Homo sapiens: one gene and its partners. The protein of the gene in region 1 interacts with the protein of each later gene in a biochemical or structural test. Each region holds a gene or a part of one and is shown in the gene's direction. Other genes may lie near its edges.

Evidence for each region. The genes of interacting proteins can lie anywhere in the genome.
Region 2: of the proteins of PRSS1 (region 1) and SERPINF2, one has a biochemical effect on the other in vitro, tested with the Homo sapiens proteins (one study listed by BioGRID).
Region 3: the proteins of PRSS1 (region 1) and UBE3A form a complex in vitro, tested with the Homo sapiens proteins (one large-scale study listed by BioGRID).
Region 4: the proteins of PRSS1 (region 1) and SERPINB8 form a complex in vitro, tested with the Homo sapiens proteins (one study listed by BioGRID).

What each region holds. Positions count from the first base shown.
Region 1 is NC_000007.14:142,748,163-142,752,271, forward strand, and holds the start of PRSS1 (serine protease 1 preproprotein), read left to right. Parts: upstream 1-1,309; 5' UTR 1,310-1,322; coding exon 1,323-1,362; intron 1,363-2,392; coding exon 2,393-2,552; intron 2,553-3,611; coding exon 3,612-3,865; intron 3,866-4,109. UniProt on the Homo sapiens protein: Has activity against the synthetic substrates Boc-Phe-Ser-Arg-Mec, Boc-Leu-Thr-Arg-Mec, Boc-Gln-Ala-Arg-Mec and Boc-Val-Pro-Arg-Mec. The single-chain form is more active than the two-chain form against all of these substrates.
Region 2 is NC_000017.11:1,741,527-1,745,670, forward strand, and holds the start of SERPINF2 (alpha-2-antiplasmin isoform a precursor), read left to right. Parts: upstream 1-1,344; 5' UTR 1,345-1,382; intron 1,383-1,472; exon of another isoform or gene 1,473-1,542; coding exon of another isoform or gene 1,543-1,550; intron 1,551-2,807; exon of another isoform or gene 2,808-3,020; coding exon of another isoform or gene 3,021-3,064; intron 3,065-3,465; coding exon of another isoform or gene 3,466-3,469; coding exon 3,470-3,532; intron 3,533-3,648; coding exon 3,649-3,687; intron 3,688-3,806; coding exon 3,807-3,869; coding exon of another isoform or gene 3,870-3,879; intron 3,880-4,144.
Region 3 is NC_000015.10:25,355,525-25,359,024, reverse strand, and holds part of UBE3A (ubiquitin-protein ligase E3A), read left to right. Parts: intron 1-2,128; coding exon 2,129-2,334; intron 2,335-2,968; coding exon 2,969-3,133; intron 3,134-3,500. UniProt on the Homo sapiens protein: E3 ubiquitin-protein ligase which accepts ubiquitin from an E2 ubiquitin-conjugating enzyme in the form of a thioester and transfers it to its substrates.
Region 4 is NC_000018.10:63,973,081-63,976,580, forward strand, and holds part of SERPINB8 (serpin B8), read left to right. Parts: intron 1-3,500. UniProt on the Homo sapiens protein: Has an important role in epithelial desmosome-mediated cell-cell adhesion.

The sequences.
Region 1 (4,109 bases):
CTTTGGCATTATTTCCAATTCCCTCTGGTTTCCATTTGCTTCCTCCCTCTAGCCCCCTGGCCAGGTCCGATTTCAACACCAAGTTTCTGAGCTTTTCCCATTTTGTCCACCGTCTCTAGAACATTTCTGCTTCTTTTACCTTTCAAAGAATCCAAACTTGAACTCTACTTACTCCTGCCCATCACCAGCCTGAGCTCAGAGTTGCTGAGAAGGGAAAGCACCCTCATAAGGAAGCTCCTCCTTTCCCTACATCATTAGACTTGAGCACAGACAGCATCTCCATTTCCACACTGCTCTGGCCAGGTTGTGCCTCAGTCAATTACACAACTGTGTCTTAGTAGCCTTGGTAGGGCCCAAATCAGGATATTCTCTAGGAAGATTCACTTTGTACTGAGCCAAGCATAATCTCACTGCATCGAAAATAGAAAATGATCATCTGATCATTCTGGTTCAGACTGTCAGCCCTGAGCAGGTGGGTCAGTTTGCATCACCTGAGTGCAGATTGCAAGGACAACAGTGAGGCTGCATAAAAAGAACCTATGACAGGATGCACATGAGAGAGACAAATGTCTTCACATTGAAGAAGGGGAGGAGTGCGCCATTGGTTTTCCATCCTCCAGAGGCACTGAGAAAGCTCCTACAGAAACTGTGCCCCCTCCTTCTTTGAAACACTTCCCATCCTTAAGCCTTGGTAGGAAGGAGAGAAATCTGGAAGCCCAGAATCCTATGGAATGCTGAGTCTCCCTTCTCCTTACCCCTTAGTGTTGGAATTTTCATTCCCCAAAATCTTGCATTTGACCTTCCTGCACACTGACTGGAGAGAAGCATCTTCATATTCACAGGAATGAGCCTTAGATAAGACTTTGCTCCTCTCATGTGGGCCCCAGGAAACTGAAATCCAAGCTTTTTACCAATGCTTGCCCTTCCTTAAGTACATTAAATACATTCCCAATAGGTGGAAAGATTTGTAAACAGCTAGGCCATTCTCCCTCCTTCTAACCCTCATCTCCAGGGCCTAAGAAAGCCCAGCTCTGTTATCTGGGGCTTGACTTTCCCTGTCTTCCCCATCCCAGTATCCTTGCAGGAAACAGCCGGTCTCGCTCTCTGCTCTCAGAAGGAAAGTTTCCTTATCACCTGTGAATCACAAACCCAGAGAGTGGCCAAACATAGCCAGGCTGATGCAAGACCCTGGGAAGAGGAAAGCTGCAGGTGTGTTTGTGCTGGGAGGAGTGGTGACCCTCACCTCACAGTCACCTCCTCTCTGGATCCTCGTGAGGTATAAAGACGAGTCCTCCACCACCAGTCAGGCACACTCTACCACCATGAATCCACTCCTGATCCTTACCTTTGTGGCAGCTGCTCGTGAGTATCATGCCCTGCCTCAGGCCCCAACCACCCCCCCGTTCCTGGCCGACAAATGCCCTTCCATTCTTACCACCTCTCCTCTTTTGACTGTGCTCTGATATTCCGTTTCCTCCATCTGGCATATCTCCTTCCCATCCTCCTTGGGCTCTTTTTAAGTCTCACCTGTTCACCTTCTCCTTGACTTCACTCCCACCACTGTCATTCATCCATATCCGAGTTGTGGTTGGAGAAGCTGGGAAGGGGGCCAGGTGGGGCTGTCCCACGAAATGAAGCAGCAGGCTTCAGGCTTGGCTCCAACAGCAACAGAATAGCACCACTATAGCTGCTCCTAACCTCGAATGCACCTGGGGAGGTTGAAAAATTACTCATGCCAGAGACTCAGCTCTAGAAATTCTAACTTCAATTGTCTGGGGTAGAGCTTGTGTTCTGGGCTTTTAAGCTTCCCAGGTGATTTTTAATATTTCCAGCCATGCAGCCAAGGTTAAGAATTGCTGTCCTATTGGCCAATAACAAAGTCTACCTTTGTTCTGCCAAAGTGAGCCTGGGGGCTGCCCTCAACTCTGCCCTGACTGCACAGATCTGAGCTATGGGGGAAGGTGGTCATGGCCAGGTCTATGCAGACAGGGGGTTTTCCTAGCTTGGCAAAAGAATCCTGACAATCCAGGGCCCAAATAGCCAGGGGAAGTACACAGGTGATGAATAAAAGAGAGAAGCACTCAGTGGGAGAGACAACCACATCCCAACTCCTATCCCACTGGAAGCATTGTGAGGACATTCCTTGCGACTTCAGCCTGGTGACCCCAGGAGAGCTCGGATCCTCCGCAGGGTACCTAGCTATGTGCCCTGCAGGCACAGAGACTTGGGAGCCACAGGCAGTGATGATCACCAGGGGTGGCAGAGCTCCCTCCCTTGCCTAGCCTCACTGTGCTTGTTAAGGATTTCTAATTAGCAGAAAGCAATCACAGGCTGGGAGCGCCACCCCTAACATGCTATTGACTTGCCTTCTCCCTTCCCATCTCCACTCCAGTTGCTGCCCCCTTTGATGATGATGACAAGATCGTTGGGGGCTACAACTGTGAGGAGAATTCTGTCCCCTACCAGGTGTCCCTGAATTCTGGCTACCACTTCTGTGGTGGCTCCCTCATCAACGAACAGTGGGTGGTATCAGCAGGCCACTGCTACAAGTCGTAAGTGTGGGGCCCCCGACTGCAAAGCTCCCGGCCAGTCTGCCTGGGAGAGCTTGGCTTCAGCCCAGGGAACTACTGAGGTTGGGTAAGATGGATGGGAGAGGTGGTGGAGAAGAAAACTTGTTGGCAGCTGCGGACTCTCCAGAGCAGAGAGTGAACACAAGACAGGAACCTCTCACACCCAGGCAAATCCATGAAACAGCAAGGGTTGTGGTCATAAAAGCAGGCAGGGATGATCTTGGGGTGGTGAGAGCTAGTGAGAAAAGCAGGCAAGTATCTTTTGCTGGTTAGCTACACATTAAAGCCAACTAAGAAAGACTTTTTAAAAATACAGATGCCTTTGTCCTATCCCAGGGCAATTAAGTCAAAATTTTCAGGAAGAGGGTGTGAATATCAGTGAGAATTTTACACTCTACCTCTGCTAACTGTAGAGTGTATAGACAGAGCTGAGAACTGCTGCCTACACCAAGAACTCTCAAACCTGAGTATGCATCAGAACGCCCTGCAGGCTTGTTAAGGCACAAATCACTGGGCCCCTTCCCCAAGGTTCTGATCAGTAGGTGGGGGTAAGGACCAAGAATTCACATTTCTAACAAGTTCCCAGGAGATGCTAATGCTATGGCTACCCTTGGATTAGATTACACAGAAGGGTGGTTCTCACCAGGCCAAGAATGGAGGGAGGAACAGGCACTGTGCACAGTTGGCAAAGGCCTGGGGTGAAGAACGCTGGGAAAACTTCAAGGAGCTCCTTGTGCCCACAGTGCTAGTGACTGTGGAGATTGTGGGAAAGAGTCTGGGGAGGCAGGTTGAGGAGCAGCCTCTGGTGGGATCCCTTTGACTCTTCCCCACCCCACTACCACCAACCTCTGGAGCAGATAGGTCCTGGGTCTCATACCTTCACTGACCCACATCCCTCTGCTGCCCATGCGATATGGCCACACACCCCACCCCATGCCTCCAGAGCTGTCCATGAGCAGAGAGCTTGAGGAACCTGGGGAAGGTGGGATAGGTGCCCTGGCTGTGGGAGAAGGTCTTCACCATGCCTGCCCTGCCCATCAGCCGCATCCAGGTGAGACTGGGAGAGCACAACATCGAAGTCCTGGAGGGGAATGAGCAGTTCATCAATGCAGCCAAGATCATCCGCCACCCCCAATACGACAGGAAGACTCTGAACAATGACATCATGTTAATCAAGCTCTCCTCACGTGCAGTAATCAACGCCCGCGTGTCCACCATCTCTCTGCCCACCGCCCCTCCAGCCACTGGCACGAAGTGCCTCATCTCTGGCTGGGGCAACACTGCGAGCTCTGGCGGTGAGTGGGACCCTTAGTCCTTCTACTTCCCTCCATCCTCACAATTTCCAGAACAAACCATGCCCCTTAACTTGAATCCTCTCACCTCCAGGCTTAAGACACATTTCGAGTGCCCATTACACACAGACTCTGCACTGGGCACCAGAGAGATGCAAACTATCAAGGACTTGGCTCCTAAAATCAAGAGACAGGACAAATGGAGAACTTGATATGATCACATCTTGGGAGGGGTTCAACAATGATC
Region 2 (4,144 bases), on another chromosome or scaffold:
CAGGGAGTGAGGAGCTGGACAGTGAGGATGGGAAGGAGCCTGATGCAGGGAGTGAGGAGCAGGACAGTGAGGGTGGGAAGTGGCCTGATGCAGGGAGTGAGGCGCAGGACAGTGAGGGTGGGAAGGAGCCTGATGCAGGGAGTGAGGAGCAGGACAGTGAGGGTGGGAGGCGGCCTGATGCAGGGAGTGAGGAGCCGGACAGTGAGGGTGGGAGGCGGCCTGATGCAGGGAGTGAGGAGCAGGACAGTGAGGGTGGGAAGTGGCCCGATGCAGGGAGTGAGGCGCAGGACAGTGAGGGTGGGAAGGAGCCTGATGCAGGGAGTGAGGAGCCGGACAGTGAGGGTGGGAAGGAGCCTGATGCAGGGAGTGAGGAGCCGGACAGTGAGGGTGGGAAGGAGCCTGATGCAGGGAGTGAGGAGCAGGTGTGAGGGCGGGAAGCGGCCTGATGCAGGGAGTGAGGAGCAGGACAGTGAGGGTGGGAAGGGGCCTGATACAGGGAGTGAGGAGCAGGACAGTGAGGGTGGGAAGGAGCCTGATGCAGGGAGTGAGGAGCCGGACAGTGAGGGTGGGAAGCAGCCTGATCTTTGCACGGGCTGCCAGGCTTCTGGTTCATACAGCCCCAGGTCAGTTTCCAGAACCCTCGCTCTTGGGTAGGGGAAAGAGACATTGCTCTGGAGTGGCAGGACGGTGGGAGAAGTTGAGTCCCTCTCATTTCTCCTCCCTCACCCCCTGCCTTCCATCCCAGTCTGAAGGCAGCCAACCTGATCCTGGGCTTGGAAGGTTGGGGGTGGGCTTCCTATCCTGGGCTCTCTGCATAGGCTCTTGTGGCTTCCCCTTTCCTCCCCTCAGGAGCGGGAGGCAGCTCTCTGGGAGAAGAAAGGACATTGGGAGTGAGAATCTGGATGTGCCTCAGCCCAGCTCTGTGTCCTTGGGCAGGTCACATGGCCTCTCTGAGCCTGGCTGAACCAGGGATAATCCACACCTCGTGGGGTCTCTGGAAGGCTTAACACAGTGCTAGGTTCCTGTGCTTTCTGGATCCGCCCTCTTGGCTAGCCAGATCCAGTCTCTTCAACTCTCTCCTCCTGAACTTTCTCTTTCCAGGCTCGGGGGGGGGGACCCAAATATAGGGGGTTCTGCGTGGCTGCCTCAGGGTTAGATGCCCTGGTGGGAAAGGGGCTTCTGGCTTCAAGATCAATGTTTAACTGGATGTGCAAGTCAATATTTACCAGAAGAGAAAGCAATCTGAACAGGGGTTGGCTGAGAGTAAAGGTCCTGGTGGGAGGGGAGGGGTGGGCTGGGCCAGCTGGAGCCTGGGCAGAGAGTGAGGAGCACCCAAGTGGGGCCAGAGGAACGTTGTGTGTGGCAGCAAGGAGCCCGCAGAGGTATGAGGGGAGGGGCTGCTCGGCCTGCTCCTTGGGTAGGAGAGGAGGAGGGAGCTGCCTCCCTGGCTGAGGGGTCTGGGATTTATTCAGGAGGCCTGTCACTCCCCAGCCTCTTCTGGGACTTGAAAAACTGGAGCCTGTTCTTGGCAAGAAGATTCTAATGCCCAGGTCGGAGTCGGGGCCCTGGCCAAGGGCTCTTGTGTGGGATGGGGGTGGGGCCGGGGGGACCAAAGGATCCTCCAGAAGGGTTGGCCCCAAGATGGGGGTGGGCTGGAGGTAGCTGAGACCTGCTCTGACTTATCCTCCTGAGACCAACACCTGCCCTTCCCAGAGCCAGCCTGGAGCAGAGGCCTGTGATGCTCCTAAGTGCAGAGGTGGCTCTGGCCAGAGTCATTCACTGGGCTCTGCTGCTGGGTCAAAAGGCAGCTCTCTGGCTGCCTTGCCACCCATGGTGAGACCTCAGGGCCTCACAGGTATGTCCAGCCTTGTGGGCAAGACCTGACCAGCCTGAGAAAGACGGGTTGGGGCCAGGCGTGGTGGCTCATGCCTGTCATCCCAGCACTTTGGGAGGCTGAGGCAGGTGGATCACCTGAGGTCAGGAGTTCGAGACCAGCCTGACCAACATGGAGAAACCCTGTCTCTACTAAAAATACAAAATTAGCCAGGCATGGTGGCACATGCCTGTAATCCCAGCTACTCGGGAGGCTGAGGCAGGAGAATCGCTTTAACCCAGGAGGTGGAGGTTGCAGTGAGCCGAGATCGTGCCATTGCACTCCAGCCTGCATGATAAGAATGAAACTCCATCTCAAAAAAAAAAAAAAAAAAAAAAAAGACAGGCTAAATGGATGCAGCAGGCTGGGTAGGAGCTCTGTGTTGGAGCTCTGCGGTGGAGGCTTCAGGGCAGGCTTCCCAGAAGAGGTGGCCTTGAGCCAAGCTGACCCCAGCCATCGGGGGAGTGCCAAGCATTGTACTCAGGGTTTACAAAGATGGTCTTATTTATTTTTTTGAGACAGAGTCTTGCTCTGTCGCCCAGGCTGGAGTGCAGTGGCGTGATCTCGGCTCACTGCAACCTCCGCCTCCCGGGTTCAAGCAGTTCTCTGCCTCAGCCTCCCGAGTAGCTGGGATTACAGGGGCCCACCACCACGCCTGGCTAATTTTGTATTTTCAGTAGAGATGGGGTTTTACCATGTTGGCCAGGCTGGTCTTGAACTCCCGACCTCAGGTGATCCACCTGCCCCTGGCCTCCCAAAGTGCTGGGATTACAGGCTTGAGCCACCGTGCCTGGCCACAAAGATGGTCTTTTGCCGGGTGCAGTGGCTCATGCCTGTAATCCCAGTACTTTGGGAGGCCGAGGCAGGAGGATCACCTGAGGTCGGGAGTTTAAGACCAGCCTGACTAACACAGAGAAACCCCGTTTCTACTAAGAAATACAGAATTAGCCAGGCGTGGTGGTGCATGCCTGTAATCCCAGCTATTCGGGAGGCTGAAGCAGGAGAATCGCTTGAACCTGGGAGGTGGAGGTTGCGGTGAGCCGAGATCCTGCCACTGCACTCCAGCCTGGTCAACGAGAGCGAAACTCCGTCTCAAAAAATAAACAACAAAAAATCCCAAAAAGACGGTCTTATTTTGGTCCTCACCATGCATGTGAGAAGAGTGAGGGACTTGTGCCACCGTTTTACAAGGTAAGGCCAAGCCTGGTGGAGTTACGGGAAATGCCGAGGTCCTTTGGCAAGAGGTAGCCTGGATTCAGACACAGATCTGATTCACAGCGCAGGGCCTTGTAGAATGAGAACGTTTTTGATTTGGTATCTCCCTCCTATTCACCAAAACACCCTCAGTGCATGAAATGCATGAAATATGAAACACCAGAAACTAAAAAGGGGGAGAAGCCAGGGCGGATGTCCCAGCTGCAGGAGTGGGAGCCGCTGCTCGTGTGTTTGGGGTCTGTTCTGATTCTGGAGCCTGCTTCTTCCCCTTGGCAATCATGACCCAGGACTTGGCGTTATCTGTGATCGCGTGGGTAGGATTCCCTGGCGGGCGTGGGGATGTGAGATGGGAACAGAGCTTTCTGTCCCTGCCACAGGAACATGGCGCTGCTCTGGGGGCTCCTGGTGCTCAGCTGGTCCTGCCTGCAAGGCCCCTGCTCCGTGGTGAGGCTGGGCTGAAGTCAAGGTGGGGTGGGGTGGAGGGGGAAGAAGAGGGGCGTTGGCATGGAGGGAGGGCTTGGCTCCGAGGGGACCTCCTATCCTCATCCCTTTCTCCACAGTTCTCCCCTGTGAGCGCCATGGAGCCCTTGGGCCGGCAGGTACTGGGGAGTGAGGAGCCTGTGATGGGGGGAAGGTCCCGGGGGTCTCACTGGTGGCTTGGGCAGGGTGGGGGGCCTGTGGGAAGGGTCGGTCTCCATCTGCTTGCTCCTTTCCGCAGCTAACTAGCGGGCCGAACCAGGAGCAGGTGTCCCCACTTACCCTCCTCAAGTTGGGCAACCAGGTACAACCAGGTGGGGCTGGGGAAGAGTGGGCGGGGCTAGAGGGAGGAGGGCCCATCGGCAGGGGTCGGGGGGTGGGGGCGCGTGCTGAGGCTGAGGCTCTGGAGTCCAGAGGCCAGAAGGGAGAGAGGGTGGGGAGGACCGAAGGTGGGCGCCAGGCCCCAGAATGCCAGTGCCCTCCGTCTGACGCTCCCTCTTCCCTGGGGCTGGGACAAGGCCCTGCTGTCCTCAGGCACAGGGGCTGTGACAAGGCCTTCAACACAGAACCTGGAGCTGA
Region 3 (3,500 bases), on another chromosome or scaffold:
AACTTATAGCTTGTTGCTCTTGGTTCCAAGGAAGGGCATTTGTGACATTTTATTAAATTCATTAATTTTTTAGACACACCATTGTCAGCTTGAACAAATTTATTAATTGTAATTATTTGTCAGCTGTTCTTGATCCTGTTAATACCATACTTATAACTAAAAGCATTTCCATGGATGTTGTAACTTGGCCTGTAAAAAAAATGTTTAGATAGAAACCATGAAACTCAAATATGAATTGTTTAATTTTCAAACCATTTTGCATTCAGAAAATGTCCTAAGCTTAATTCATACTCCTAGTGATCAAGGAAACATGTTAAAGCTCCTTATTTTTAAACTTAAAGTGACAATGACATTTTCAAAGATTTTAAAATTCTTATAAACAGGTTAAAATACTTATATACTGTATAATTTGATTTCTGATTTCTAAGCTCTACTTTTCTATTGGAAATTACAGATTTTTTTCAGACTTAATTCTTAAGATGTTTTCATTGTTTCACAGTAGCAACTAAACATGTAGTAAAATGATTTAAATTCAATTAAAATTTTTTTCCTTAGTCATTTAAAAGGGAAGAAATCAATTTTTAGTAGTACTCATTCCAAAGATTCCAATTTTCCTTTTTTTTAATCTTTTATTTTTTGGTGGAGGGAGGCAGGATCTGGCTCTGAGGCCCAGGCTGGAGTGTAGTGGTTCTGTCTCGGCTCACTGCAACCTCCACCTCCCAGGCTGAAGACTCAAACCATCCCCATGCATCACCCTCTCAAGTAGCTGAGACTATAGGCACATGCTACCACACCCAGCTTATTTTTTGTGTTTTTGTAGAGATGGGGTTTCTCCATCTTGCCCAGGCTGGTCTTGAACTCCTGAGCTCAAGTGATCTGCCTGCCTCAGCCTCCCCAAAGTGCTGGGATTACAGGTGTGAACTACCACACCGGGCCCCAATTTTCCAATGAGTGATATAAAAAAGGCCTCCACGCAGGCGCCTGTAGTCCCAACTACTCCGGAGGCTGAGGCCAGAGAATGGCATGAACCCGGGAGGCGGAGCTTGCACTAAGCTGAGTGCTGCTGCACTCCAGCTTGGGCGACAGAGCGAGACCGTCTCAAAAAAAAAAAAAAAAAAAAAAGCCTCCATGATTGGGGCTTGCATAGTGAAGACCATGTGAAATTGAAAGACTACGAAACTACTTTTCTTTTACGTATTGGCCCATAATTAACATGTGTATTGAATAGCTTTGTTTATCTAAGTTCATCAGATTTATCCAGGTTTATGTATTTCAGATCATCTGATTTTATTAGGAAAATGCTAGAAAAATTTCATGGCACCATTGTCTAATTTTGAAAAAACGAACCTTTCTTTACTGTGATTAAAAATTGTTTTTTAGGCCAGGTGTGGTGGCTCACGCCTGTAATCCCAGCACTTTGGGAGGCTGAGGCTGGCAGATCACGAGGTCAAGAGGTTGAGACCATCCTGGCAAACATGGTGAAACCCCTTCTCTACTAAAAATACAAAAATTAGCTGGCGTGGTGGTGCACACCTGTAGTCCTAGCTACTCAGGAGGCTGAGGCAGGAGAATTGTTTGAACCTAGGAGGCAGAGGTTGCAGTGAGCTGAGATCGTGCCACTCCAGCCCACCCTGGGTAACAGAGCGAGACTCCATCTCAAGGAAAAAAATGAAAAATTGTTTTCAAAAATAGTACGTGTGGTACAGATATAAGTAATTATATTTTTATAAATGAAACACTTTGGAAATGTAGCCATTTTTTGTTTTTTTATGTTTATTTTTCAGCTATGGGTGGATAAAGCATGAATATAACTTTTCTTATGTGTTAGTAGAAAATTAGAAAGCTTGAATTTAATTAACGTATTTTTCTACCCGATGCCACCAAATTACTTACTACTTTATTCCTTTGGCTTCATAAAATTACATATCACCATTCACCCCAATTTATAGCAGATATATGTGGACATTGTTTTCTCAAGTGCTAATATAATAGAAATCAATGTTGCATGCCTAATTACATATATTTTAAATGTTTTATATGCATAATTATTTTAAGTTTATATTTGTATTATTCATCAGTCCTTAATAAAATACAAAAGTAATGTATTTTTAAAAATCATTTCTTATAGGTATGTTCACATACGATGAATCTACAAAATTGTTTTGGTTTAATCCATCTTCTTTTGAAACTGAGGGTCAGTTTACTCTGATTGGCATAGTACTGGGTCTGGCTATTTACAATAACTGTATACTGGATGTACATTTTCCCATGGTTGTCTACAGGAAGCTAATGGGGAAAAAAGGAACTTTTCGTGACTTGGGAGACTCTCACCCAGTAAGTTCTTTGTCATTTTTTTAATTCAGTCTCTTAGATTTTATTTAAATGCAAAAATTTAATTTATGTCAAAATTTTAAAGTTTTTGTTTAGAATCTTTGTTGATACTCTTATCAATAAGATAAAAATGTTTTAATCTGACCGAAGTACCAGAAACACTTAAAAACTCAAAGGGGGACATTTTTATATATTGCTGTCAGCACGAAGCTTTTGTAAGATTGATTTCATAGAGAAGTGTTTCTAAACATTTTGTTTGTGTTTTAGTGAAATCTTAAGAGATAGGTAAAAATCAGAGTAGCCCTGGCTAAGGGTCTTGGTAGTTACAACGAGTGTGCCTGCTCCTACCACCCCCACCCCCACCTTGAGACACCACAGAATTTCTCATAGAGCACAGTGTGAATTCTATTGCTAAATTGGTGGTATGGGGTTTCTCAGCAGAGAATGGGACATCACAGTGACTGACAATCTTTCTTTTATAGGTTGGAAACTATTTGGGGGACTGGAGGGATACTGTCTACACTTTTTACAATTTTTATTGATAAGATTTTTGTTGTCTTCTAAGAAGAGTGATATAAATTATTTGTTGTATTTTGTAGTTCTATGGTGGCCTCAATTTACCATTTCTGGTTGCTAGGTTCTATATCAGAGTTTAAAAGATTTATTGGAGTATGAAGGGAATGTGGAAGATGACATGATGATCACTTTCCAGATATCACAGACAGATCTTTTTGGTAACCCAATGATGTATGATCTAAAGGAAAATGGTGATAAAATTCCAATTACAAATGAAAACAGGAAGGTAATAAATGTTTTTATGTCACATTTTGTCTCTTCATTAACACTTTCAAAGCATGTATGCTTATAATTTTTAAAGAAGTATCTAATATAGTCTGTACAAAAAAAAAACAAGTAACTAAGTTTATGTAAATGCTAGAGTCCACTTTTCTAAATCTTGGATATAAGTTGGTATGAAAGCACACAGTTGGGCACTAAAGCCCCTTTTAGAGAAAGAGGACATGAAGCAGGAGATAGTTAATAGCTAAGTGTGGTTGTAGTATAAAGCAAGAAGCAGGGTGTTTCTTGTATTAAGCTGTAAGCAGGAACCTCATGATTAAGGTCTTTATCACAGAACAAATAAAAATTACATTTAATTTACACATGTATAT
Region 4 (3,500 bases), on another chromosome or scaffold:
GGTTGAACTAGTTTACAGTCCTACCAAGAGTTTAAAAGTGTTCCTTTTTCTCCACATCCTCTCCAGCACCTGTTGTTTCCTGACTTTTTAATGATCACCATTCTAACTGGTGTGAGATGGTATCTCATTGTGGTTTTGATTTGCATTTCTCTGATGACCAGTGATGATGAACGTTTTTTCACGTGTCTGTTGCCTGCATAAATGTCTTCCTTTGAGAAGTGTCTGTTCATATCCATTGCCCACTTTTTGATGGGGTTGTTTGTTTTTTTCTTGTAAATTTGTTTGAGTTCTTTGTAGATTCTGGATATTAGCCCTTTGTCAGATGGGTAGATTGCAAAAATTTTCTCCCATTCTGTAGGTTGCCTGTTTACTCTGATGGTAGTTTCTTTTGCTGTGCAGAAGCTCTTTAGTTTAATTAGATCCCATTTGTCTACTTTGGCTTTTGTTGCCATTGCTTTTGGTGTTTTAGTCATGAAGTCCTTGCCCATGGCTATGTCCTGAATGGTATTGCCTAGGTTTTCTTCTAGGGTTTTTATGGTTTTAGGTCTAACATTTAAGTCTTCAATCCATCTTGAATTAATTTTTGTATAAGGTGTAAGGAAGGGATCCAGTTTCAGCTTTCTACATATGCCAGTTTTCCCAGCACCATTTATTAAATAGGGAATCCGTTCTCCATTTCTTGTTTTTGTCCGGTTTGTCAAAGATCAGATGGTTGTAGATGTGTGGTATTATTTCTGAGGCCTCTGTTCTGCTCCATTGGTCTATATCTCTGTTTTGGTACCAGTACCATGCTGTTTTGGTTACTGAAGCCTTGTAGTGTAGTTTGAAGTCAGGTAATGTGATGCCTCCAGCTTTGTTCTTTTTGCTTAGGATTGTCTTGGCAATGTGGGCTCTTTTTTGGTTCCATATGAACTTTAAAGTAGTTTTTTCCAATTCTGTGAAGAAAGTCATTGGTAGCTTGATGGGGATGGCATTGAATCTATAAATTACCTTGGCCTGCCCAGCTTTTAAAGCCAGCTTCTCTGGAAAGTCTTTCCAGGATTCTGTAGAGGTTTTCTTCTTATTATTTATTTATTTACTTGTTTTTTTCTGAGGATTTCCATAGCACTTTCAAAATTATCCTGTTATAGAGCACCTGACTGGCTTGAAACTACGCATTTCCATATGTGTGTCTTCTTTAGGGTGTAAGCTTCTGGGCAGTGATTAACGCATTTATTTTTCATTTTCTCCTCCCAAAACAGGTAGTGAACATTCTACATAAATGCTCTTTGAATAAACTCACTTTTGGATGTTGTATGGGGATGGGGGAGTGGAGGAGGTAGTTCGTAGGTATTTGGGGCTCCCAGGAGGAGGACAATATCATATACTTGGAAACGTAAGGCTTGCTTTTGAGGCTGACTCTCACTTTTTCTGTGAGTCCTGTGGACAGTATTTAATTGCCTCTGTCTTTGTTTGTTTGCCTGAAAAGGAAAAACTAGTTTAATGCCAATTTATTTGGTTGGCTGGAAATAAAAACTTCTGATTCCTGTGTTTTTATAACACAATCTAATTGTGGCATTGGCACCTAAAGTATTATTTTGTATTAAAATTAATTGCTTTTTAGAAATATTGGGTAAAGTCCATTTTGTTTAAAGTTCCAACCCTTTCAAAAGCTATAAAGTCCAAATGAGATTGGAACACCAGGAAGACAGGGGGAAGAGTCATTCTGTTACCTGGTTTTCTCCCCTGCCTGACTTCTGACCTGAGCAGAGGCCAAGGGGGTGCACTTGTGTGTGAGTGTGTGCACATGTATTGTGGCTGCAGGGTAGATATTGATGGGAAATACCACATACTGACCAGCACCTGAGTGTTGAAAAGGAATGGAAGTGGGGACATGAGATGAAGGAAGAGGAAAGATGGAAGAAATCAGAAGTAGCAGTTTGCAACTAAGAGCAGTTAAAATGTAAAGATGAGATTGATGCAATAGTTCAGTTCATTCAGAACTATTGAAACTATTGATTCAATAGTTCAGACAGGATGATTAAACACACCTACACACACACACACACACACACACACACCCCAACCTAAGTTCATGCTTGCTTCACCCTGAGTCCAAAGCTCTTATGCTAAGGTTGGATCAAATCCAAATTTATTTGTGTCTCTGTCTTACCCAGTTTACCCAATTCTCTCCATCTTTAAGTTTCTTTGGTGCCACCTTCTGGTTGGCCCAGTTCTATGAAGTCTGAATATTCCTTCCTGCCTCCCAGTCTCTGAAATGTCCTCGAGTGAAAGATGAGGTTGTGGAGGACCCCGGGACTTGCCTGCACATACTACTCTGCCTTCCAACATCTGCAGACCCTAGTATAAGCTCTGGAGAGGTCTTATGATGTGAGGATAGTGAGAAACAGGAATATTTTGTTCCATAATAAACAACCTCTTAAGTATAGAGTACTGTTGTGCAAATTATGTCATGATTGTGTTTTCTTGGTTCACATTTATTTTACTTAGTTTTCTGAACCCTAACCATAACCCTAACCCTACTTGTTTTTTTCTGAACTGCACTAACATTTATTTTAAACTTTAAAGAATTTGCACTGCTTTAGACTGTTGTTCTATATTTAGAGTGTTGCCTTTACACTTTAAAAAAATATATAAGCTCACTTTTTTGTTTAAGTAAGAGACACCCTTCTGTTGAAAAATATCTTAGGAGGAAGCGAAATATCTTAGGAGGAAGCAAAACATCCAACAGTGAAGATACTTTGGTTAATACAGTTGTTCCCCACTTCCTTGTCTCAGCCACTCAATTCCCCTTTCCTCCTGTGCTCTAAGAGACCCAGAAGACCTGTCCAAGACCCCCACTAAGGGCATACAGTTTCAGAGCTGCTGCAACAGGCACTTTGTAGGCCGCTGGGAAACTGGATGAGGCTCCATCTGTTTATAGAAATGAACACATGCACGATAATTTATATCTCTAGATAGAGTTTCCAGGACTTTTCATTTTGCTCATTTGCTAATTTTCCAAACTGGAGCATATTTTTCTTGTTTGACTACATTTTTCAGTTAAAATTATACATGTTTATGAAAAAAAGGATAATATAATAGAAAAAATATCTGTAGGATCATGAGATTATAGATAATGATTTGTCCTTTTATTTTCCCAAATGTTCTCAATTGTAAGAACAAAAAGGCTGAGGGAAATTGAGATGAGTTGGTGAACTGCAATATTTTATGAAATAGCCCACGTTTTTATAGGGTTTAATAGATATAAACAACAATGTAGGACTTATAATAATGCACTAAAATTATAATAATAGTAAACTGTAATAGCTTTTTAGCACTTTAAGCAAGGTGCCCCCCTAGATTAGGCTCCTACCTTCCACAGAACTGGTTGATAGGGATGCTATCTTTCTTGATGATTACATTTCAAAAGGATGGCTTCCAGGTCTTTGAGAGACTGTCCTGGGATGTAAAACTAGCAAGAAGCTTTTTTAAAAGATTTACATCTCAAAGGGGCTGAT